Linked DNA regions of Homo sapiens. The protein of the gene in region 1 interacts with the protein of each later gene in a biochemical or structural test. Each region holds a gene or a part of one and is shown in the gene's direction. Other genes may lie near its edges.

The links.
Region 2: the proteins of MATK (region 1) and MET form a complex in vitro, tested with the Homo sapiens proteins (one large-scale study listed by BioGRID and IntAct).
Region 3: the proteins of MATK (region 1) and ERBB2 form a complex in vitro, tested with the Homo sapiens proteins (2 studies listed by BioGRID and IntAct, with this or other methods).
Region 4: the proteins of MATK (region 1) and ERBB3 form a complex in vitro, tested with the Homo sapiens proteins (one large-scale study listed by BioGRID).
Region 5: of the proteins of MATK (region 1) and SMURF1, one has a biochemical effect on the other in vitro, tested with the Homo sapiens proteins (one large-scale study listed by BioGRID).
Region 6: the proteins of MATK (region 1) and ERBB4 form a complex in vitro, tested with the Homo sapiens proteins (one large-scale study listed by BioGRID).
Region 7: the proteins of MATK (region 1) and PTPRD form a complex in vitro, tested with the Homo sapiens proteins (one large-scale study listed by BioGRID).

What each region holds. Positions count from the first base shown.
Region 1 is NC_000019.10:3,777,473-3,780,427, reverse strand, and holds the end of MATK (megakaryocyte-associated tyrosine-protein kinase), read left to right. Parts: intron 1-630; coding exon 631-730; intron 731-810; coding exon 811-895; intron 896-976; coding exon 977-1,050; intron 1,051-1,240; coding exon 1,241-1,436; intron 1,437-1,832; coding exon 1,833-1,919; intron 1,920-2,005; coding exon 2,006-2,245; 3' UTR 2,246-2,455; downstream 2,456-2,955.
Region 2 is NC_000007.14:116,699,696-116,703,195, forward strand, and holds part of MET (hepatocyte growth factor receptor isoform b preproprotein), read left to right. Parts: coding exon 1-589; intron 590-3,500. UniProt on the Homo sapiens protein: Receptor tyrosine kinase that transduces signals from the extracellular matrix into the cytoplasm by binding to hepatocyte growth factor/HGF ligand. Regulates many physiological processes including proliferation, scattering, morphogenesis and survival.
Region 3 is NC_000017.11:39,720,564-39,724,063, forward strand, and holds part of ERBB2 (receptor tyrosine-protein kinase erbB-2 isoform a precursor), read left to right. Parts: intron 1-2,755; coding exon 2,756-2,894; intron 2,895-2,974; coding exon 2,975-3,097; intron 3,098-3,348; coding exon 3,349-3,447; intron 3,448-3,500. UniProt on the Homo sapiens protein: Protein tyrosine kinase that is part of several cell surface receptor complexes, but that apparently needs a coreceptor for ligand binding. Essential component of a neuregulin-receptor complex, although neuregulins do not interact with it alone.
Region 4 is NC_000012.12:56,090,165-56,093,664, forward strand, and holds part of ERBB3 (receptor tyrosine-protein kinase erbB-3 isoform 1 precursor), read left to right. Parts: intron 1-2,582; coding exon 2,583-2,656; intron 2,657-2,821; coding exon 2,822-2,912; intron 2,913-3,180; coding exon 3,181-3,386; intron 3,387-3,500. UniProt on the Homo sapiens protein: Tyrosine-protein kinase that plays an essential role as cell surface receptor for neuregulins.
Region 5 is NC_000007.14:99,137,609-99,141,108, reverse strand, and holds part of SMURF1 (E3 ubiquitin-protein ligase SMURF1), read left to right. Parts: intron 1-3,500. UniProt on the Homo sapiens protein: E3 ubiquitin-protein ligase that acts as a negative regulator of BMP signaling pathway. Mediates ubiquitination and degradation of SMAD1 and SMAD5, 2 receptor-regulated SMADs specific for the BMP pathway.
Region 6 is NC_000002.12:211,415,803-211,419,302, reverse strand, and holds part of ERBB4 (receptor tyrosine-protein kinase erbB-4 isoform JM-a/CYT-1 precursor), read left to right. Parts: intron 1-3,500. UniProt on the Homo sapiens protein: Tyrosine-protein kinase that plays an essential role as cell surface receptor for neuregulins and EGF family members and regulates development of the heart, the central nervous system and the mammary gland, gene transcription, cell proliferation, differentiation, migration and apoptosis.
Region 7 is NC_000009.12:8,482,003-8,485,502, reverse strand, and holds part of PTPRD (receptor-type tyrosine-protein phosphatase delta isoform 1 precursor), read left to right. Parts: intron 1-175; coding exon of another isoform or gene 176-178; coding exon 179-276; intron 277-1,124; coding exon 1,125-1,384; intron 1,385-3,500.

The sequences.
Region 1 (2,955 bases):
TTAAAAATAAAAATGCAAAAAACATTTTGAGCTGAAGGGTCTTGCAAAAAGAGGTGATAGGTAGATTTGGCCCCGAGGGGGTGGGGGTTCACAGACCCCTGGCTTAGATGGTTCTCTCTTTGTTTTTGTTTTTTGTGGGGTTTTTTTTGAGATGGAGTTTCGCTCTGTCACCCAGGCTGGAGTGCAATGGCACAATCTTGGCTCACTGCAACCTCTGCCTCCCGGGTTCAAGTGATTCTCCTGCCTCAGCCTCCCGAGTAGCTGGGATTACAGGCATGTGCCACCACACCTGGCTAGTTTTGTATTTTCATTAGAGACAGGGTTTCTCCATGTTAGTCGGGCTGGTCTTGAACTCCTGACCTCAGGTGATCCGCCTGCCTCAGCCTCCCAAAGTGCTGGGATTACAGGCGTGAGCCACCGCGCCAGAGCCAGATGGTTCTCTGATCTTGGGTCTGGAGCTTGCAAGGGCGGCAGGGGTGAGGAGCATGGGGTCTGTGTTTCAAGGTCTGGGGACCCGCAGCTGTGTGAATGTTACATGGGCACCGGTGTGAGCGGGCCTGTCCGTCTGTCTCTCTGTCCCTGTTTGTTGGGGGTCCTGATCTCACCCCGTTCCCCACCCCCACCCCCCAGCTGTCCTGCAGGGTGAGTACCTGGGGCAAAAGGTGGCCGTGAAGAATATCAAGTGTGATGTGACAGCCCAGGCCTTCCTGGACGAGACGGCCGTCATGACGTGAGTCCCAGGGTGGGGCTGGGGACCGTGGGACGGGGGGGGTCCCAGCCCTGCCCTCACGCCCACCCCACCGCCCCCAGGAAGATGCAACACGAGAACCTGGTGCGTCTCCTGGGCGTGATCCTGCACCAGGGGCTGTACATTGTCATGGAGCACGTGAGCAAGGTGGGGCGGGGCCCAGGCGGGGAGGGGGCCCACGCAGCGGAGCAGCCCCAACATCCCGCGGCCATCTCCCACCCCCAACAGGGCAACCTGGTGAACTTTCTGCGGACCCGGGGTCGAGCCCTCGTGAACACCGCTCAGCTCCTGCAGTTTTCTCTGTAAGTGGGACTCTCAGGGTGCTGCGGCACTGGGGTCGTCGGGGCGCAGATTCCAAGATCCATCAAGGGGAAACTGAGGCACGGGGCAGGGAGGCTTTGTGAGCTTGTGGCCCCAGGCACCCCGAGCTTTCTGAGCCCTGAATGTGGGCATCCTGGCACCTGAGCCCCCACTGCCCCCTACTACCCCCAGGCACGTGGCCGAGGGCATGGAGTACCTGGAGAGCAAGAAGCTTGTGCACCGCGACCTGGCCGCCCGCAACATCCTGGTCTCAGAGGACCTGGTGGCCAAGGTCAGCGACTTTGGCCTGGCCAAAGCCGAGCGGAAGGGGCTAGACTCAAGCCGGCTGCCCGTCAAGTGGACGGCGCCCGAGGCTCTCAAACACGGGGTGAGCCCTGCCTTCACATACCCCTGGGGCTTTGGGGTCCCCCCAGCTCTGCTGTATGACCCTGGGTATGTCCCTTGGCCTCTCTGAAACTCCAAGGGCAATGGCTATGCCTCCCCAGGAAGCTCTTGGCCCATAATTGTTCCTCGTAGCCCCCCTCTGGGCCTCAGTTTCTCCAGCTCTGAAAAAGGCGTGGGCTCAGGACTGAAGGGAAGAATAACCAGGCTTCCTTCATGCACTAAGGCTGAGCTAGACTCAACTGCGGGCGGCGTTGGGGGAGGACTCAATTAGGAGAAGACCAGAGAGTGAGGGTCAACCCAGGAGGGCTTCCTGGAGGAAGCAGGGGCTGGAGCAGAAAACCTGAGGGGTCCCTCCTCACCCCCGTCTCGGGCCCCACAGAAGTTCACCAGCAAGTCGGATGTCTGGAGTTTTGGGGTGCTGCTCTGGGAGGTCTTCTCATATGGACGGGCTCCGTACCCTAAAATGGTGAGCGGGGGTCCCAGGGAGGCACTGGGTTCCGGGCAGGTCCAGAGGCTGTGGCCCTGACCCCTGCCCACGCCTGCTGTCCGCAGTCACTGAAAGAGGTGTCGGAGGCCGTGGAGAAGGGGTACCGCATGGAACCCCCCGAGGGCTGTCCAGGCCCCGTGCACGTCCTCATGAGCAGCTGCTGGGAGGCAGAGCCCGCCCGCCGGCCACCCTTCCGCAAACTGGCCGAGAAGCTGGCCCGGGAGCTACGCAGTGCAGGTGCCCCAGCCTCCGTCTCAGGGCAGGACGCCGACGGCTCCACCTCGCCCCGAAGCCAGGAGCCCTGACCCCACCCGGTGGGGCCCTTGGCCCCAGAGGACCGAGAGAGTGGAGAGTGCGGCGTGGGGGCACTGACCAGGCCCAAGGAGGGTCCAGGCGGGCAAGTCATCCTCCTGGTGCCCACAGCAGGGGCTGGCCCACGTAGGGGGCTCTGGGCGGCCCGTGGACACCCCAGACCTGCGAAGGATGATCGCCCGATAAAGACGGATTCTAAGGACTCTAGGCGCCTGTGTGTCTCTGTGTCCCCGTGCCCTCTTCCCCGGGGGCCACCTTTGGTGATCTGCTCTCGGACACCCCCAGGCGCCAGGCATCCTGGGTCCTCCCTTAGAGGTCCACCCCCCCTAGATGCCCTGTGTGCCCCAGCCCCAGTGGTCACCTTCCTACTCTGTGGAACCCACTGCAGCCCACATGATGGGATCAATTAATTGGGACCCCACTGATCCTTGGCCGAGTCTTGGGCACCCACCGGCCCCAAGCCCCTGCCTCCTGTGGCCACATGCCTGCACACGGGGGCCTCCCCATCTTGGCCCATGGAGGATCTGCCCAGCTGGCACCTGCCTGCTGGCCACTGTGGGGACACCGTTCCCTGGGGGATTCTGGGCAGGGGACCCACTTGCCATTACCCACGGGTTCCCCACTGCAGTCCCCCAGGGCATGTGGTATTCAGTGGTGGGCACCCTTTCCCAACCCATGGGGTCCCAGGCTTAAAGGATCTTGG
Region 2 (3,500 bases), on another chromosome or scaffold:
TTATTTCCCAGATCATCCATTGCATTCGATATCAGTGAGAAGGCTAAAGGAAACGAAAGATGGTTTTATGTTTTTGACGGACCAGTCCTACATTGATGTTTTACCTGAGTTCAGAGATTCTTACCCCATTAAGTATGTCCATGCCTTTGAAAGCAACAATTTTATTTACTTCTTGACGGTCCAAAGGGAAACTCTAGATGCTCAGACTTTTCACACAAGAATAATCAGGTTCTGTTCCATAAACTCTGGATTGCATTCCTACATGGAAATGCCTCTGGAGTGTATTCTCACAGAAAAGAGAAAAAAGAGATCCACAAAGAAGGAAGTGTTTAATATACTTCAGGCTGCGTATGTCAGCAAGCCTGGGGCCCAGCTTGCTAGACAAATAGGAGCCAGCCTGAATGATGACATTCTTTTCGGGGTGTTCGCACAAAGCAAGCCAGATTCTGCCGAACCAATGGATCGATCTGCCATGTGTGCATTCCCTATCAAATATGTCAACGACTTCTTCAACAAGATCGTCAACAAAAACAATGTGAGATGTCTCCAGCATTTTTACGGACCCAATCATGAGCACTGCTTTAATAGGGTAAGTCACATCAGTTCCCCACTTATAAACTGTGAGGTATAAATTAGAAATAAGTATCAGTCTCAAAAAGAATATCCAGGGCTTCTTTTGTGCTTTGTAAATGGTGTTTATCCAAAATAGTTGCAGATTTTTTCCAAGAAAATTGAGGAATTGAATCTTCATTTACACCTAAAATTATATCTTTAAAATGTAAATGGTAACTAAAAGAAAAATGTTTTTACAATTCAGATTTGCATGTTCGTGACATTTCAGATTATATTAAAGTTATTTCCCATATAAGCTTTTTTATATTTACACAGATTTTATCAGATTTACACAGATTTTATCAGATTTACACAGATTTTTATCACAGCAGCAATTCCCATAAAACATAATTATTGACATTTCTATATAATCTCTGCAACATTTACAAGATGTTCAAGCTAATTTGTATGCCTTAAAGAATTGTTCCTTATGAGATTATATTCTCTCACTGATACACAACTGATTAATCTATATTCTTGACATTACTTAAAGGAACTTAACTTTAAAAAACCTCTTCTGAAATGCTGGTAAATAAAACATTTTTAAATGAGCTCGTATACTTCTCTAAATAACCTGTAAGAGTAGAGAGGAAATGTTTGTTCCCAAGTCCTTCCTTTAGAGCTTGACTTTAATCATGGACTTCCTTCTGGAAAAGACTTGTGTCTACCAAGTTCTAGCTTGGCACTTTACCTGGTTGGTATTTGTTATTTATAAGCATAAATATTTTGGTTGATGATTATTTATACTTATATGAAATGGTATTTTCTTAGGAGCTGTTAGAGATATTCTTGGTGCTGTGATTTAAATATAGTAACAGCTACCAGCTATACCTGGAGATTTATCCTGCTAGTCAGTTGATCACCTGGTCTGAGTGTTTATTGTGGCTTTGAGTTTCTTGATCTGGGCCAGATTTGGAATACGGACCTGACTATGACCATCATTGAATGAACAAATAGTATAGCTTTTCTAAAGACAGTTTGACTTTGGCATGGTATGTTTCACTTACTTTAACAGGTTTCAATCTAAGATATAAAGGTTATAATTGCAATCAGGTAGAACATTAAACATGTCCTCAGTAGCATAAAGTATATAATTTGCTGAGGGGTAAAGGCATATGAATTCAGAGACATTTGGTTGACTTTTGCTGAAATGTCTGGGACACTTCTCTAGATGGAAACTATAGTTAACTTTTTATGATGCTAGGAAAATACTTCCAAGAAAGTCAGTTCATCTTTTGGTGAACTAAAAACAAAACTTCCTTCCTCTCTCTTCCAAAGTCTATGAATATACATAACATAAATGCACATACATTCCAACTAAGACTTATTTCCCCCTACATACATTTAATATATGTTGCAAAGAAGCAATAGAATTCCTTATGAAGCTCCCCCTTTTCTTTACTAGAAACTACAAAAGAATGAAAGGAAACAAAATGATTTTCAGAAACCTGGGATTAGGAAATAAAAATATAATATTAATAGCATTACAGAGAAGATATTTTTCTGCATCCAGTAAGTTGATTCTGAGACACAAGTTTTAAAAGAGTCTATTAGGAATTCCTCCAGGGCTCCTAGAGCACATGGATTTGCTATTTAAATCTTTCTTTGTTAAAAATTAAAAAGAAGGGTAGGGCAAGAAAAAAATTAAAAAGAGAATTCATAAAGGTATATTGATATCTCATTTTTTAAATTTTGTACATTTCAATCCTTAGATGTAAAAATACTTATCAATTCTAGAAATTCTCAAAACACATCTGAATTTTATCCTACCCTTTTGACTTTTTTAGTGTTCCAAGGGAGACAAACAGACAGGATTAGCCAATGAAATTCAGGTCAGTTTTATCGCCCAGGAAAAATTCCCAAAATGCACTAGCCACACCTGAAACCATTATCACTCCCATCACAAAAATTCTTGCGGGAAACAAGATGGAACTTGCCAACATAGTCTTCTTACAAAGGAAGCCAACTTTTACACTGGCCAAATTCCATAGACAAATACCTTCAAACCTCCTCTATTTATTTGCCTGTTTATCTTCTCTGGTTACAAAGATCAAAATTCTTCTGAGACTGAGACTACACATATTCTCTCTCTCCATATACCCCATCCAGACCTCAGATTGTTCCAATAATGAGCATATAATCATTTCCTAGCTTAATGCCAAAATGAAGGCACCTAGAGCCATTCATCACACACAAAAAAAACAAAATGATTACAAGATCAAAGCTGTTTAGCAGGACTCTCAAGCAATAAGATGACTCCATTTTGTCTTGGCAGATTTACTTGGCCAGAAATCAAGTGACCCTTTTAATAATTTCTTGGAACTGAGTTTTTACTTTGGCATCAAGTTTGGTGAAAAGACACACATATTGTAGTTTTGTTATTAACATCTCTAATACATTTATAAAGGGACTCTTGTGGACAAGGTTAAGAAAGCTGAGCTGCAGCAGTAACTTTCTACTTATGCTTCTGCCCAGTCCTCAGTGTTGACACATTGCTGAAAGAGGGATTTCCTGGCACTCCAAGAGCTCTCCACCATGTGCAAAAAGTGTTTCTATCACAAGATCAGATAATGGGAGTGCCAGGGACGGGCCTTTTACATTTTAGGGGTCCAGCAGGTGTACCAGGCCTGACTTGCTTGTTTAGGATCACATATTTTGTTGCTTTTCCCAGTCTCACATTTCATGAAATATGTCTATGCAAACTCTTCACATGCATCTTCTCATATTGATGACATCACAAAAGCCCTCTTTTGAGTCATTTGATAATTCCCAGTACTCGTCATCTTCACCCATAAGCTATTTGTGCTTCAGAACTCTTTGTCTCCACATATGATGCTGTTTCTGGAAACTTATCCCAAGCCACAAATGCCCACTTATAGAATACCAGT
Region 3 (3,500 bases), on another chromosome or scaffold:
TGTGCTAAGCAAGGGGGTATGGAGAGGAGAGGGTGACAAGAATATTGGATCAACACCCGGGAGCTCCATCTATCCCAGGATGCACTATCTTTTTTTTATTTTTTTGAGACGGAGTCTCACTCTGCCTGCAGGCTGGAGTGCAGTGGCTCCATCTCGGTTCACTGCAACCTCTGCCTCCTGGGTTCAAGCGCTTCTTGTGCCTCAGCCTCCCAAGTAGCTGGGATTACAGGCACATGCCACCACACCCAGCTAATTTTTGTATTTTTAGTAGAGACGGGGTTTCACCATGTTGGCCAGGATGGTCTCGATCTCTTGACCTCAAGATCCGCCCACCTTGGCCTCCCAAAGTGCTGGGATTACAGACATGAGCCACCGTGCCCAGCCAGATACGCTATCTTTTTATTGAGTGATTGAGACAGGGTCTTGCTCTCTTGTCCAGTCTTGAATGTGGTGGTGTAATCACAGGCTCACTGCAGCCTTGACCTCCTGGGCTCAAGTTACCCTTCTGCAGTAGCTGGGACTATAGGAGCGTGCCACCACGCCTGGGTAATTTAAAAAATTTTTTTTGTATAGACAGGGTCTCACTATGTTGCCCGAGCTGGTCTCAAACTCGTGGGCTCAAGTGATCCTCCAGTTTTGGCCTCCCAAAATGTTGGGATCACAGGAGTGAGCCACCACTCCTGGCGATGAGCCAAGTCTTTTTTTTTTTTTTTTTTTTTTGATATGGAGTCTTGCTCTGTTGCCCAGGCTGGAGTGCAATGACACGATCTTGGCTCACTGCAACCTCTGCCTCCCAGGTTCAAGCAGTTCAAGCAATCCTCCTGTCTCAGCCCCCCAGTAGCTGGGATTACAGGCATGCGCTACCACGTCCGGCTAATTTTTGTATTTTTAGTAGAGATGAGGTTTTGCCATGTTGGCCAGGCTGGTCTTGAACTGCTGACCTCAGGTGATCCACCTGCCTCGGCCTCCCAAAGTGCTGGGATTACAGGTGTGAGCCATCGTGCCTGGCGGAGCCGAGTCTTAAAAGATGACCCTGTGGAGAAATGGTGGTCCAGGCTGAAGGGACAGCCTATGCAAACACTGGGAGGTGTGGAAAATCATGACCTGTGGGTGGAAATTTTGGCTAGAACATCAAAATCATCAGGTGTACATTCCTGTACCCATGCAGCAGTCAGAATCTCTGGGGGTGGGGCCCCAAAATTGTATGCATACAGACTGTGTGCTGATTTGTGATATTACTTAGGATTTTTTGACTTTACAATGGTGGAAAAGCAATAATATACATTCAGTATAAACCGTACTTTGAATACCCATACAGCCATTCTGTTTTTCACTTTTATTTTTATTTATTTATTTATTTATTATTTATTTTGAGATGTCATTTTGCTGTTGTTACCCAGGCTGGAGTGCAATGGCGCAGTCTTGGCTCACCGCAACCTCCACCTCTCAGGTTCAAACGATTCTCCTGCTTCAGCCTCCAGAGTGGCTGGGATTACAGGCAGGCACCACCACACCCGGCTAATTTTGTATTTTTAGTAGAGACGGGGTTTCTCCATGTTAGTCAGGCTGGTCTCGAACTCGAGAGCTCAGGTGATCTGCCCATCTCAGCCTCAAGCCACCATGCCCAGCCCTACTTTCAGTATTCAATAAATTACATAGCCAGGCACCGTGGCTCACACCTGTAATCCCAGCACTTTAGGAGGCCAAGGTGGGAGGATCCTTTGAGGCCAGAAGCTCGAGACCAGCCTGGGCAACATAGTGAGACCCCATTTCTACAAAAAATAAAAAAACTAGCTGAGTGTGGTGGCGTGTGTCTGTAGTCCCAGCTACTTGGGCAGCTGAGGTGGAAAGACTGCTTGAGCCCAGAGGTCAGGGCTGCAGTGGGCCATGATCTCACCACTGCACTCAGCCTGGGCAACACAGCAAGGCCCTGTCTCAAAAATAAATAAATAAATAACACAAACTTATTTAACAGTTTACTATAAAATAGGCTTTGTGTCAGATGATTCTGCCCAACTGTAAGCTGCTGGCAGTGTAAATGTTCTGAGCACGTGTAAGCCAGGCTAGGTGTCTTAAATGCATTTTCAGTTTCAACTTAGAATTGGTTTATCAGGACGTAGCCCCTTGGTGTTGAGGGGCATGTGTATTAACAGTCTCCTTAGTGACTTTTTTTTTTTTGAGATGGAGTCTTGCACTGGCCGTAGTGCAGTGGCACAATCTCAGCTCACTGCAACCTCTTGTCTCCCGGGTTCAAGCGATTCTCCTGCCTCAGTCTCCCAAGTAGCTGGGATTACAGGCACCCACACCACGCCCAGCTAATTTTTGTGTGTGTGTATTTTTAGTAGAGACGGGGGTTTCACTATGTTGGCCAGGCTGGTCTCGAACTCCTGACCTTGTGATCTGCCCACCTCAGACTCTCAAAGTGCTAGGATTCCAGGCATGAGCCACCGCGCCCAGAGTCCTTAGTGATTTTTACACCATGAATTGTTGAAGCCCTAAGCCAGAGCCAAGGGCAAGAGTATAGAGAATCTGGAGATGCGGAGAGGGTTCTGATTGCCTACAAGGAGTTTGGACTTTATTGTGGAGGCAGCGGGGAGCCAAGGCAGGTTTTAGAGTAGGAGAGGGTCCAAGCCTGTGGGTCACCCTTCCGACTTCCCTTTCCGAATGCCAAACACCTTCATGTCCCCCGTGGGCCCCCTTTGTCCCTCCCACCCCAAACTAGCCCTCAATCCCTGACCCTGGCTTCCGCCCCCAGCCCTCTGACGTCCATCATCTCTGCGGTGGTTGGCATTCTGCTGGTCGTGGTCTTGGGGGTGGTCTTTGGGATCCTCATCAAGCGACGGCAGCAGAAGATCCGGAAGTACACGATGCGGAGACTGCTGCAGGAAACGGAGGTGAGGCGGGGTGAAGTCCTCCCAGCCCGCGTGGGGTCTGCACCGGCCCCCGGCACTGACCCACCACCCCCTCACCCCAGCTGGTGGAGCCGCTGACACCTAGCGGAGCGATGCCCAACCAGGCGCAGATGCGGATCCTGAAAGAGACGGAGCTGAGGAAGGTGAAGGTGCTTGGATCTGGCGCTTTTGGCACAGTCTACAAGGTCAGGGCCAGGTCCTGGGGTGGGCGGCCCCAGAGGATGGGGGCGGTGCCTGGAGGGGTGTGGTCGGCAGTTCTGATGGGAGGGGCAAGAGCTGGAGGCAGTGTTTGGGGGAGGGCAGTTACAGCGGAGAAGGGAGCGGGGCCAAGCCCTAGGGTGGTGAAGGATGTTTGGAGGACAAGTAATGATCTCCTGGAAGGCAGGTAGGATCCAGCCCACGCTCTTCTCACTCATATCCTCCTCTTTCTGCCCAGGGCATCTGGATCCCTGATGGGGAGAATGTGAAAATTCCAGTGGCCATCAAAGTGTTGAGGGAAAACACATCCCCCAAAGCCAACAAAGAAATCTTAGACGTAAGCCCCTCCACCCTCTCCTGCTAGGAGGACAGGAAGGACCCCATGGCTGC
Region 4 (3,500 bases), on another chromosome or scaffold:
AATTTTTGTATTTTTAGTAGAGACAGGGTTTCACCATGTAGGCCAGGCTGGTCTCGAACTCCTGACCTCAAGTGATCCACCCGCCCCAGCTTCCCAAAGTGTTGGGATTACAAGTGTGAGCCACCGCGTCTGGCCCCCCATACACTCTTTTACCCAGATCCTCCAAATGTTAACATACCACATATGGCCGGGCACAGTGGCTCATGCCTATAATCCCAGCACTTTGGGAGGCTGAGGCAGGTGGATCACTAGGTGTGGATCACGAGGTCAAGAGATTGAGACCATCCTGGCCAACATGGTGAAACCTCATCTCTACTAAAAATACAAAAATTAGCTGGGCGTGGTGGTGTGCGCCTGTAGTCCCAGTTACTCAGGAGGCTGAGGCAGGAGAATAGCTTGAACCTGGCAGGCAGAGGTTGCAGTGAGCCGAGATCGCGGCACTGCACTCCAGCCTGGTGAAAGAGCGAGACTCTGTCCCCCGCCAAAAAAAATACCACATACGCTTTATCACTTCTCTCTCTCTCTGTCTCTCTCTACACACACACACACACACACAAAACACATGCTATTGTTTTTCTGGACCACGTGAGGGTAAATTTTCACACATGGTTCTTTCTTACCCCTGTTATATTTCAGCGTATATTCCTTAAAAATAATATTTTCTTACATAACCACAGCATAGTTGTTTGAATCGGAAAATTAACATTAACACAAAATATTATCTAAGCTACAGACCTTATTCAGATTTCACTAATTGTCCTCCTAAGGTTTGGGATCATACATTACATTCAGTTATCGTGGCACTTCAATCTCCTTTATAACAGCTCCTCAGGTTTTGTTTATCTTTCATGATATTCTTGATGAGTATAGATTAGGTAATGGGCAGCATGTTCTTCAGTTTGGATTAGTTTGATGTGTCCTCATGATTAGATTCAAGTTTTTGTAGTTTTTTTTTGAGACAAGGTCTGGCTCTATTGCCCAGGCTGGAATACAGTGGCATGATCTCAGCTCACTGCAACCTCTGCCTCCCGTGCTCAAGCGAGCACCTCAGCCCCCTGAGTAGCTGGGATTACAGGTGCATGCCACCATGCTTGGCTAATTTTATATATATATATATATATATATATATATAAATAATATATATAAATATAAATATATATATATAAATAATATATATAAATATATATAAACATAAATATTATATACTATTTATATATTTATATATGTGTGTGTATATATATATATATTTTTTTTTTTTTTTGAGACGGAGTCTCGCTCTTGTTGCCCAGGCTGGAGTGCAGTGGCGTGATCTCAGCTCACGCAACCTCCACCTCTCAGGTTCAAGCCATTCTCTATAGAGACAGGGTTGCACCATGTTGTCCAGGATGGTCTCGAACTCATGAGCTCAAGTGATCCTCCTGTCTCAGCCTCCCAAAGTGCTGGGATTATAGGCATGCGCCGCTGCCAGGCTGGAGTTTGATAAGAACACCACAGAGGCTGTGAGCTCAGGGCATCCTATTGAGGATGTACGTGATGTTGATTTGTCCCAGCACTCACAATGATGTCTCTGGTCACTTAGTTAAGGTGATATCTGTCAGGTTTTTCTACTGTAAAGTTACTATTTTTCCATTCACAATTAATGAATGTCTTGGGATAATTGCCTGAATCAATTATTGTTATGATAGTTGCCAAATGATAATTTTCTAATTCCATTATTCCTTCTGCATTTGTTTGTTGGCATTCTACTGTTAGGAAGAGTCTTTCCAGCTGAGCACAGTGGCTTATGCCTGTAATCTCAGCCCTTTGGGAGCCAGTGGGAAAATTGCTTGGGCCCAGGAGTTCAAGGTTACAGTGAGCTATGATGGCACTACTGCTCTCCAGCCAGTGCACTCACTCTGCACAACAGAGTGAGACCCTGTCTCTTAAAAAAAAAAAAAAAAAAAGGCCAGGTGCAGTGGCTCATGCCTGTAATTCCAGCACTTTGGGAGGCCGAGGCGGGCGGATCACAAGGTCAGGAGTTCAAGACCAGCCTGGCCAGCATGGTGAAACCCTGTCTCTACTAAAAATACAAAAAATTAGCCAGGCATGGTGGTGTGCTCCTGTATTCCCAGCTACTTAGGAAGCTGAGGCAGGAGAATCACTTGAACCCAGGAGGTGGAGGTTGCAGTGAGCTGAGATTGCTGCCACTGTACTCCAGCCTGGGCGATAGAGCAAGACTCTGTCTCAAAAAAAAAAAAAAAAAAAAAAAAAAAAAAAGGTCTTCCTTTCCTATTTACTCTTATGGATACTTATTTTATTCTAGTCAATGGTTATAATCCTTTACAATCATTATTTATTTTAGCCAGCCCCTCCAAGTTGGCTCCTGTGTTCTTTGGGCTGTACCCTTAATTCTTTGAGTCTTGTCTTGTTTGCACAAGATGCTCTGGGCTTATATTATATTTCCCCCATCCCAGCCATTTCTCCAAGGAATGTTTCCTTTTAGTGGAGAATGATATTTAGAAACCAAATGCTGAGGCTGGGTGTGCTCATTGCCATTGAGTTATACCTTTACCTTATTGACTGGTTTCTACTGTTCTATTCAGAGACCCCTGGCACAAGATCCCTGCCCTGGACCCAGAGAAGCTCAATGTCTTCCGGACAGTACGGGAGATCACAGGTGAGTGGCAGAGAGTTTGCCCTTTCTAGAAGAATAGGTGAACCACTGGCATAAATTGCGGTATAACTACTTGAGAAAATCACGTCCCAAGTTATAGGGGAGGAGCCAGGAGAACCCAAGAAAGAAGAAGGCTCCCTGCCCATATGCCTCTCTCCAACCCCTCAGGTTACCTGAACATCCAGTCCTGGCCGCCCCACATGCACAACTTCAGTGTTTTTTCCAATTTGACAACCATTGGAGGCAGAAGCCTCTACAAGTGAGTAAAGGGTATGGAGGAAATGGCATCTTCAGGCAATGAAGCCTGTGTCATAGGCATTCTTTAGTAAAATACAAGGCACTGTCTCATACAGCAGTGCCTCAAAACCAAAGGGTTTCAGAGTTTCACGAGGAAAAGGCAAAAGGAGGGGGATTCCCTCTCAGTGGATCTGACTAGCACTGAGCAAATTTCTTGACTAACATGAATCCTTTGAATAGTTAATGTTCCCTTAGTAGTCTCTCCTCTCATCCTGTCTCCTTATTCTCAGCCGGGGCTTCTCATTGTTGATCATGAAGAACTTGAATGTCACATCTCTGGGCTTCCGATCCCTGAAGGAAATTAGTGCTGGGCGTATCTATATAAGTGCCAATAGGCAGCTCTGCTACCACCACTCTTTGAACTGGACCAAGGTGCTTCGGGGGCCTACGGAAGAGCGACTAGACATCAAGCATAATCGGCCGCGCAGAGACTGCGGTGAGGGAAAGGGTCTGCTAGGTGGTGAGAATAGGGAGTCAGGGAGGAGAGGGCTGAAAGGACTATTCTGCCCTAGACGTGGGAGTAGGGTTGAGGGATGGAACCAAGGAGAAG
Region 5 (3,500 bases), on another chromosome or scaffold:
CCCTTTCCCTTTCCCTTTCAGTAGATGTTATGAATGGTTTGAGAGGATTTGTGAGTGTGATCATCCTTACAATAGGATTGCGGTTTAGCGGTAATGGTACACATGCAATGCCAGTACGTGGAACCTTAGTTTACCTCGAAAGGTTTGAACTAGAAGTTTGTTGACGGTGGAATAGGTTTTAGTCTCATCTTTCTGGTTAAGGGAAGTTTGAATTCTCACTTCTGGGATGTTGAGAAGCAATCTTTCAAAATTTGAATACTTTTGTTACAGGTTTCAGAGTTTATTTCCATGTTTGTTATTTGGAAAAAAAAAAAAGACTGTTAAAAATGAGGGATATTTCAACCAGTCAATGAATAGACACAGAGCGAAATTCAGTGCAAAGATAGTGAAGATGGCCTGGCGCCGTGGCTCACGCCTGAATCCCAGCACTTTGGGAGGCTGAGGCAGATCACGAGGTCAGGAGGTTGAGACCATCCTGGCTAACACGGTGAAACCCCGTCTCTACTAGAAATACAAAAAATTAGCTGGGCGCGGTGGCTCACACCTGTAATCTCAGCACTTTGGGAGGCTGAGGTGGGGCGGATCACGAGGTCAGGAGATTGAGACCATCCTGACTAACACAGTGAAACCTCGTCTCTAGTAGAAATACAAAAAATTAGCTGGGTGTGGTGGCGGGCGCCTGTAGTCCCAGCTACTGGGTAGGCTGAGGCAGGAGAATGGCTTGAACCTGGGAGGTGGAGCTTGCAGTGAACCGAGATTGTGCCACTGCACTTCAGCCTGGGCAACAGAGTGAGACTCTGTCTCAAAAAAAAAAAAAAAAAAAAAAAGGATACTGAAGATACTACATTTAGAACTTTGGGGTCCACGATTCTATTTGGGGGTGAATAGGGCATTAGATTTACAGTTAGGAGACCTAGATTCTAGACAGATTTCTCATTAACTACATGTTACGGAACAAGTTATTTAACCTTTTTGGGTCTCAGTTTCTTTATATATCAAATGAGATTTCAGCTCCATTATAATACTCTTTGATCCTCCTTCTCACAGGATATATCAATTTAGCTACCTACTTATTTCAAATTACTGTTGGGCACTTGGGCTTAGTGGTATTCTTAATCCTGATATTCAGAAAATTGTGTTGGAGTGTAGCACATGTGTTTGATTTATGCCAAGCATTAATTTTGTGTATTGATTACATTTATGACTTTATTTCTTCATGTGGGATTGTTTTTGAAAACTGTTGGGTAATATGTTGAACTGCTTTGGCAACCTGGTCTAAACAGTAGAAGAATATTTGAGCCTTTGTATTTAAAATAATAACATTTTAACGAATGTTTTTGTGGTATTTTAGTAGGAAAATAGTTTTTAAATGGTTTCAGTAGGTTTAGGGGCATAATATATCCAGAATCAAGTGATCTTTTGTTAAAGAGCATTATCTTGTAGTCATTGGAGTTCACTGGCAAATCAAACACTTTAGAAACATTTTGATTGAAAAATCAAGCAGGATTTGCAAAAACTTTGTTCTTATCTGGTACACAAATGAATCCCAGACACATTGTTTAGGCCACTTTGGGTAAAAGAATGGAATTCAGGGTTCTACAATGCTCTTCAAGAAAATTAAATTTTATTGTAATGTCAACCAATTAGTTGAAATACAAGTGCCTAAACTTTTTTGTGCTTTTATGCATTGAAATACTCTCAGATATCCTGGTGTTTTTATATCTTTTGGAGCATGACTGCATATTGTGAAGTAAGAAAAACTCTAATTCCAAACAGAGAGGAACAAAGAGACTTTCCTTGATAGCATGTGGAAATATGAGGTTGTTTTTAAAATTGTAGCTTGTGGGATGTAAGGGTGACTTGTGTTTTGGCATTCAGATGGTGCAACTGTGAGTGAAATAGTTGTGGTAATAGCTGTTGATGATGTTGGTTGATGAATTACAGGTGTCTCAATTGATTCAAAATAGTTAAGTCTCTCAAGAAAGATTAAGAAAATTGTTAAGACTGTTGACTTTGTCAATTTGTACCAGCTAAGAACCTCACTTATGTGAGGCAGGCAAAACTTTTGTTTCAAAAACCATATAACACAGTTGCTGTGATAAGATGGAATAAGTGGTCAGTTTTTAGCTCCCTTTGCATTTACATTTTCCTTAGGGTCTGCCTCAAGTTTAGGAAGATACAGTTAAGGCAGTTCTTTGAGATGAATTATTGGAAGGTGTAGGATGGGTTAGAACAAATGCTGTTGCAAAACTTGAATTGCAATTATACTTTAAGAAGAATCACATTCTGCCAAATAGAGGTTTTTGTCATTGATTTTGTGATTTGATCACATTTGTGTTGCCTTTTAGAACAACTTTCTTTTTTCAAATCCATTTTTTTTTCCTTTTAATCTTCTTGGCCCACCCAACTGACTTTAGACATGAAATCTTTCATATGCTTTATTTCTATCTCCATTTTTACAGTAGTTGTGATTTATCAAACTAGGATTTTTAACTTCAAGTCCATCTGTCAGAGTTTAAAACCTCTAGTCTTGCAGTTACAAAAGTCCTTTCTGAATGTTGGGTTTTTCTTTCTCTTCCACACATTTTCATTTTCTCGGTTCAGTCACAATGTCAGGTTCTAGTGTGGAAAATTGGGTGAAAGAAAGGTTTTGGAGGCTGTGTTATTTATGAAATATTTCCTCATGGATTAAGAAAGAAAAAAAGACAAAACGACAAATAGTGTTTCAATATCACCTCAGTGATCCAGTTAACTAGACTGGCTGTTTTGTACAACATCGTGGGCACTGGTTAACAGTTAAAATAGCTGAATTGTGCGTTTTATTCAGTGGTTCAAAAAAGCCTCAAATGGATGAAATAACTTGATATCTTCGCCATGCTCTGATTTGCTGGGTAAGACAGCTAACTTTTAGGATGCTTATTTGGATCAATTTTTTATAATTTCAAAACCATTTTAGAGGCTAATTTTTTTTTAAACAAGGAATATACAATTTTTTTTTTTTGTCACTGAACAAGTTTTAAATTACTGGTTTGTTATTTTGTAAGTGAATTTGTAAGTGAAAGCCTCCAACTTAAATTAGCTTCTTGTCCAGGGAACTCATTCTGACTGACTAAAGTCCCTAAGGCCTTTCTAGTTAAAGGAAAGCCATGGAGCTATGTTTAAAAAACAAAAGCACATAGCTATGGGGCTTGGGCATATCTTCTTTTTAAAATGTCACTATTACTGTTTTGTCTCCAGATGCAATTTAATCCATTTAGATATTTAAACCAAGTGGAATGTTGTTTCCACATTTCTGGACTAATGGGGGAAAAAACACCCTCATATTGTTTTAAAACAAGGCTTAAATAATGTATAATCAGCGCGTCTGGTGACGCGCCCCACTCTGTAATTCCAGCTGTGTTCACCTCCACTGCAGCTGAAAGGAATTCTAATTGGCTGAGGAATGTCGGCAACATCGTTTATCACTGAGCAGGAACCTATCCTCCTGGCTGCTGGGTGAT
Region 6 (3,500 bases), on another chromosome or scaffold:
CCTTAAACAAACTTCATGAGGTTCTATTATTATCATCCCCTTCTTTCAAAGGAAGAAACTTGCCACAGAGAAGTCAGGTGATATGACTGGTGTCACACAGCTAGTCAGTGGAAGAGAGGAATAATGTAATCTAGATATCTGCCTACTACACTGTAGGTTTGCTTCAAAGTTACTGAAGCATGTTATTTCCATGATGTGATTAGAGTCTGGGACTTGTCTTGTTTGGGAAATTTCCCAGGTGGTTTTCTTATAAAATGCATCTCAAATCTGCTCTACACCTTTTACTCATCTACCTCCATTTAGAAGATCTGATATGGAAAGAGACAAAGATGGAGACCTCAATTATTTTTTCTTTTCTGTTAAAAAATATTATAGTACAAACTGAAAACTTTATCACATGCCCAATGGGGAATAGATAACTAAAAGTTTTAAAAATTAGATCAATGGATAGGTAATGAATAATCAGTCTTTTGCTTGTGAGAGGGGAAGAAAGCGGTTAAGGTGTATAAAGGAGGCTCTCTGTACACTTTGCAAAATGATCAAATTATATACCCTTGTATTTATAATTTTAAGTGACAAATTCATTACTTCTGGTTACAACAGTGAAATTTAAAAAAAAATAGTTTTTCTTTCTTAGCTTGCAATGCTATAAATCTTTTTCTTTTTATAAGAATTCTTACATTTCAGCTTTTTGTTCATTTTAATTTATAATTCTCAGTGCAAGAAATTCTTAATAAAGGTTTGAGCTAGCTAGATGGAATTATTGAGACAAAGTCTAAATCACCCGTGGACTTATTTGACCTTTAGCCATCATTTCTTATTCCACATTATAAAACAATGTTACCTGTAGATTTCTTTTTACTTTTTCAGTCCTTGGAAAAGAAATGGTGATTAAATATCATTGTATCATTTTATGTTCAGGCATTTAAAAAGCTTTATTTGTCATCTATATTGTCCTAATAGTTTTCAGTCTGGCTTTACGTAACTTTTACGGAAATTTCTAACATGTACAAATGCCATGTTCCTCCTTTCTTTCCTACATGGCTGAATTAGAAAACAAATTACTTCCATTTTAAGTTTGGCTAAATTAGAAAACAAATTACTACCATTTTAAGTTTGGTGGCTAAATAACGTGCTAAGGGAACATCTTAAAAGTGAATTTTGATCAAATATTTCTTAAGCATATGTGATAGACTTTGAAACCAAAAAAAAAAAAAATAATGCATTTTGAAAATATAGGCTCCACTGCGCACTAATTAAGAAACTTTAGGTAATGTTCTGAATATCTCTATGACTTTGTTTCCTCATTTTCTAAATGCTATATTGCCTATCTTATATGAGTGTTAGGCAATTAACTTTAAAAAATTGCAGAGTATTTATAATGCCAGGTAAACAAATTTTATTACTCTACTTTTAGAATCATCAATTTCACTTTTCATTTTTACCATTTCCATTTTTACCTTTTTCCTTGTCAATATCATATATCATAAATAATCACACTTTCTTATAAGGTGCTCTACCCACTATCTATGAAAAGCTTGTTGATGCAATTACTGCTTGGCCAGCAAATTATTTCTGCTGATGTGTTCTAATATCAAATAAAGACAGAAGTAATTTTTTATAGTGCTTTTGATTTTTTCAATTCCACAAATATTTTGATAAATTACAACTTTAAAGCAATGAATCAATTCAAAATACAATGTTTATATTTGTCCAGAAAGTTGATGAATACAAATTTAAGTCATGCTAGAAAACACTTACCTAATTTACAGCTGCTGTTACTATTGTTAGATATACTTTTAATATTACCTTAAAATTTTTTCTTTTTTGAGACAGGATCTCACTCTGTCACCCAGGCTGGAGTGCAGTAGCACGATCTTGGCTCAGTGCAACCTCCACATGCCAAGCTCAGGAGATCCTCCCATCTCTGCCTCCAGAGTAGCACCACAGGTGCATGCCACCCTGCCCAGCTAATTTTTTTTTATATTTTTTTGTAGAGACAGGGTTTCCTTATGTTGCCAAGGCTACTCTTGAACTCCAGAGCTCAAGCAATCCACCCACCGTGGCCTCCCAAAGTGCTGAGATTACAAGTGTGAGCCACCATGCCTGGCCTCAAATCTTTTTAAGCAATAATACACCAAAAGCTATTTTACTCTAGCGTGATGTAAAAATAGGAGAAAATGAGAAGCTATTTAACTTCTGCAAACCGTGCTCTATATCTGTAAAATGGGGATTTAAAAATTTTCTCACGGAATATTATGAAGATTACCTTTTTAGTGTATGCATGCACGTTACCTATTAATGGACCTGGAATAGATGCTCCAATAGTGTGGAAATAAATGAATATTAACCAAACGAAAAAAGCAAAGAGTATTTATTCAGAGACTGCTATAGCAAGAAAGTCAGCTCCATCAGTTACATTTTGGCAGAGACTTAAAGGCCCGCAGAGGAGTGGGAAAGCTGTGTAGGGTTAAAAAAAAAAAAAAAAAGGGAAGGCTTCATCTATGCCCTCATTAGAGACTGTTGGCCTGGGGAAGCTATAGGCAGGATAACTAGAAGCCATTGGTTAGAGGTGCATGTTTGACTTTTTTCTGTTGGTCTGAAGTTGGAAGCAAGGACAAAAATTAGGAAAGCTGCCAGTTATTAATCAATTCTGGTCATTTGGAGCTGATTGTTATACAAGTAATTGTGTAGCTTCCTGGGTTGTTACTAGAGATAGCAATCTGACTTCCTGCAAATCTGATTTACAAAAGGCTGGTTTGCTGGGCTGTTTATTGTAGATAAGGAGGTTTGCTTCCCAATTTGTTTCTATTTTTACATATGGTCAGGCCATTGTCCCTTTGTATATTCAGTCTATTGGATTTAGTTTCCATTGCGGCCTTCTTTTCTCTAGATATTTAAACACATGCTGCCTAATATTTTCGATTACATGTTCAGCATAATTTAAAAATTCTCCATAGGTTTTTTTTCTTTCTTTTTTGTTACAATGGCTAAGTTTGGTCTTTTGAGTTACCTAGAATTATATTTTTTTGATATAATAAATTGTATATTAAATGAAATAGCAATGAATAAAAATAGTGAATAAACTGATGTGGCTGAAGATATTTTAGCTTTAATGATATTAGAAAATTTAATTTAATGTAAAAGCTTCCATGTATTTTTATAGAGGAAGACATAGTTTCAATTGCAAGCCCATCCAGTCATTTGTAAGCAATAGTTTTAAGATTAAATGCTCCTCTGTCAAAACATATCAGCTAACTCTTAATTATCTCAGCCAGTGGAAGACAGAGAAATTGTAGCTACTCCACATTAGTGAAGTGAGTAACCCGCAATGGATTTATCATCACAATGTAACTTCTTTTTCCCTTCTTTTCTATCTGCTAAGAAGTAACTTTATTAAATAGATTTATTTGCATTTTCCTCTTCCTCTTACACGCTTTCTCCCAGAATAGATATATAAATAAACTGAAAAATAAAATGTAAGCAGAAGTGAAGAAGAA
Region 7 (3,500 bases), on another chromosome or scaffold:
AAAGATCTCTGTGAGAATGGGGTATTAAAATGAATGCTCTAAACAGGTAGGAAAATCATACTTCTCTCTCTGATCAAAGTAGACAGCATCTAGCATAAGCCCCTATGGTCCATGGTGGAAAGGACAGGTCATCTGTTTTAAGAATAGTTTAAATACACTGTTTTTCCTTTTCCAGCAGTGTTTGCAAAAAATTTTCATGTCAAAGCAGTAATGAAGACTTCCGTGTTGCTGTCTTGGGAGATTCCAGAGAATTATAACTCCGCCATGCCTTTCAAAGTAAGTTGTTTTCTAATTTGTAAGAAATCACAGATAAAAGTAGAGGGGACAGTTTATCTGGGTAAGTTATTTGCACAGCAAGCAGACCACTTTGTTTTGGCCACGTGTCCTTGCTATTTTCATTTGTGACTTTCACATGGGAGACAGTTTGGTGCTTTGTAAGTGTGTCCTTTACACTCTGAAGAAGGAGCAGGAGCTTAAATCCAGGGCTGGCATCACTTGTAGGTTACCTACTACTTTGAACTTGAACTTTTTACATCTAAGCTAGTGCTTTTGTTTTTCAGCCAGAGAATGAAATTTACATGGTTTCTACCTATTTATATTATAATACCCTGGGAGTTTCTGAATTTGTTTGTTGGCCTGTATTCTTGGCACATTTTAAACTCTGGCTTGCCATTAAGAGATGTTAGCAAGTACATATTTATGAAATAAGAAATAGAGAAACATTTTTGAAAGTAAAAGTATATTTAGAAAGAGGAACCAAAACCTTTAGAAAATAGGCAATATTCATAATACGTTGAAACGTAGAGCTTTTCTGCACATATTCCATTAAGATCACATACAACTGACAGGTCTAATATTGATAAGTTATTTTCTATATATATATATGTATATATCTATCTTTGTGTATTTTTGATAGACTTGGAAACATTTTATCATTACACAGTAGGAAATGACAGGAAAATTGATGTGATCTCCAGAATTATGACTACTCATGGACTTAGAAATCACCTAAAATTAGAATTGACTATATATACATTTTCCAAAAGCTAGTGCACATTGGTTTAGAAAATATATTTTGCCTCTCTGATAACCAGATTTTTTTTTTATTGGTTTTATCTCTTTAGATTCTTTATGATGATGGGAAAATGGTAGAAGAAGTGGATGGCCGAGCCACACAGAAGTTAATTGTCAACCTGAAGCCTGAGAAATCATATTCATTTGTGCTGACAAATCGTGGAAACAGTGCTGGTGGGCTGCAGCACAGGGTCACGGCAAAGACTGCACCAGATGTATTACGTACCAAGCCTGCCTTCATTGGGAAGACCAACTTGGATGGCATGATTACTGTGCAACTGCCTGAAGTACCTGCAAATGAGAATATAAAGTAAGTTGATTGAAGGCTTAGGGCTGAAGGAAAGAATTATAGGTAAATAGGAACATTATATCTCAAAATTATAGAGGTCGTAAAAGAAGATACTGCTTAATGTAGTGAAAGATTCTTCTGCTCAGACTCCCAGTTTTGCTATCCGAGTTCTTTTACAACGTGTCCTAGTATTCATTGTAACACAGATTTTCATTAATTTAACAGTGAGTTTTTAATCTGTATTGCAGGGACAGTGTTATTTAGGAGAAACAGAAAAACATATAGAACATGGTTCTTACTACAAAGCTTTTTGTTTGTTTGTTTGTTTGTTTGTTTTTGTTTTTGTTTTTGTTTTTGTTTTGAGACGGAGTCTCGCCCTGTCACCCAGGCTGGAGTGCAGTGGCGCGATCTCGGCTCACTGCAACCTCCACCTCCCGGGTTCAAGAGATTCCCTTGCCTCAGCGTCACAAGTAGCTGGGATTGCCTCAGCCTCCTGAGTAGCTGGGATTACAGGCACCTGTCGCCATGTCTGGCTAATTTTTTGTATTTTTAGTAGAGACCGGGTTTCACCGTGTTAGCCTGGATGGTCTCAATCTCCTGACCTTGTGATCCACCTACCTCAGCCTCCCAAAGTGCTAGGATTATAGGCATGAGCCACCGCGCCCGGCTACTACAAAGCATTTTATGTCATAGTTTATGGAATAAGGTGAATAGGTGATTAACTCTAATATTTGGCAAAATATTTTTGTAATTATGAAGAAGTCTTACAAAGTACTAAAAGGTTGAAAAAAAGGGGGGGAAATTAGATAATGGTATATGACACTGATGTATTAAAAGTAGGAAAAATTCCAAAAAGTTAAAGTTAAAAATGACATTGGAAAAAATATAAACATTAGAAAATTCAAGTTTTCTGGTTTGAATGTAGCACAGCATAGAGGCCAACAGGCCTGAAGTGGAAAATTAAATCCAGTCAATTAAATAAGTTTGTCCAAGGACATATAGCTAGTTGGTTGAATAACTAATAGAAGAAAAAAGTATTTTCACCAAAATATATGAACTACAAGTACTGTGGTAGACTCCGGGGAATAAAAAAAGATGGATTCCTGACTTCAAAGACCTTACCATAGAGTGAGAGAGATACAGAGAAACAGACAGATGTAGTAAGCGTTAATGATAGAATTATGCTTTATCTTAAGAGCAGCTAATTCAGAATGGGTCAATAAAGTTTCTGAACTTAAATCTTAAGGGATAAATAGGAGGCATACAAATAATAAAAGAGAGACTATATGCAAAGGGAGTGGTAAGTGCATAGGCCCATTACTAAAGGCACCCAGTGGTGCCATACGGCTGGATCCCAGAGCGCCTGGCCACAAGTGGCAAGAGAAGGAAGAAGGAGGCATACAAGAGCCAAGGGTATACCCAGAAGTGAAAACTATATCCTCTAGACAATGGCAACCCATTACAGCTCTTTACACAGGAGAGTGGCATGATAACATTTCAATAATACATAATAAAATTCCATTTTAGGAAATATTTGTTGAGCATCTATTGTGCTACCTGTTTGGAATAAGAATAAATCCTTTCTCATTTCTTCTATCTCACACCCTCAAGTTTAGGTGAAACTTGCTATGCCAGGTTTGAAGGTCAAGCAGAGAGGCATTTATTCATAGTTCATGCATTGTTGGAATTTGGATAGATGGGAGCGCCATAGAGATAGTGGTAGAGAAAATTATTGGGAGGTGGTCACATAGTTGACTCTAGGCAAATAACAAGATTCTAAAGGAAGATGATGATGATGGAAGTAGGATGCAGAGGTAGACATGAGTTACACTAGAGTAGTAGTACAGCATACATTATTGGTAGCTGCTTTAATGATGAGATCAAGAGAGTAAAATATGGCTCTGAGTTCTGAGCTTGGATGACAATGAATGATGGTGTCATCCTAAAGGATAAAAAAATTCAGAAGTAAATGAGTTTAACGTTGTGTGTATTAATATGAAATATCAGTGAAATACCTAGTTAGAAGTGTGGGCTTAGAGAAGTTATTAAGATTAAAGATGGCCAGGCATGGTGGCTCATGCCTGTAATCCCAGCACTTTGGGAGGCCGAGGCGGGCAGATCACAAGGTCAGGAGTTC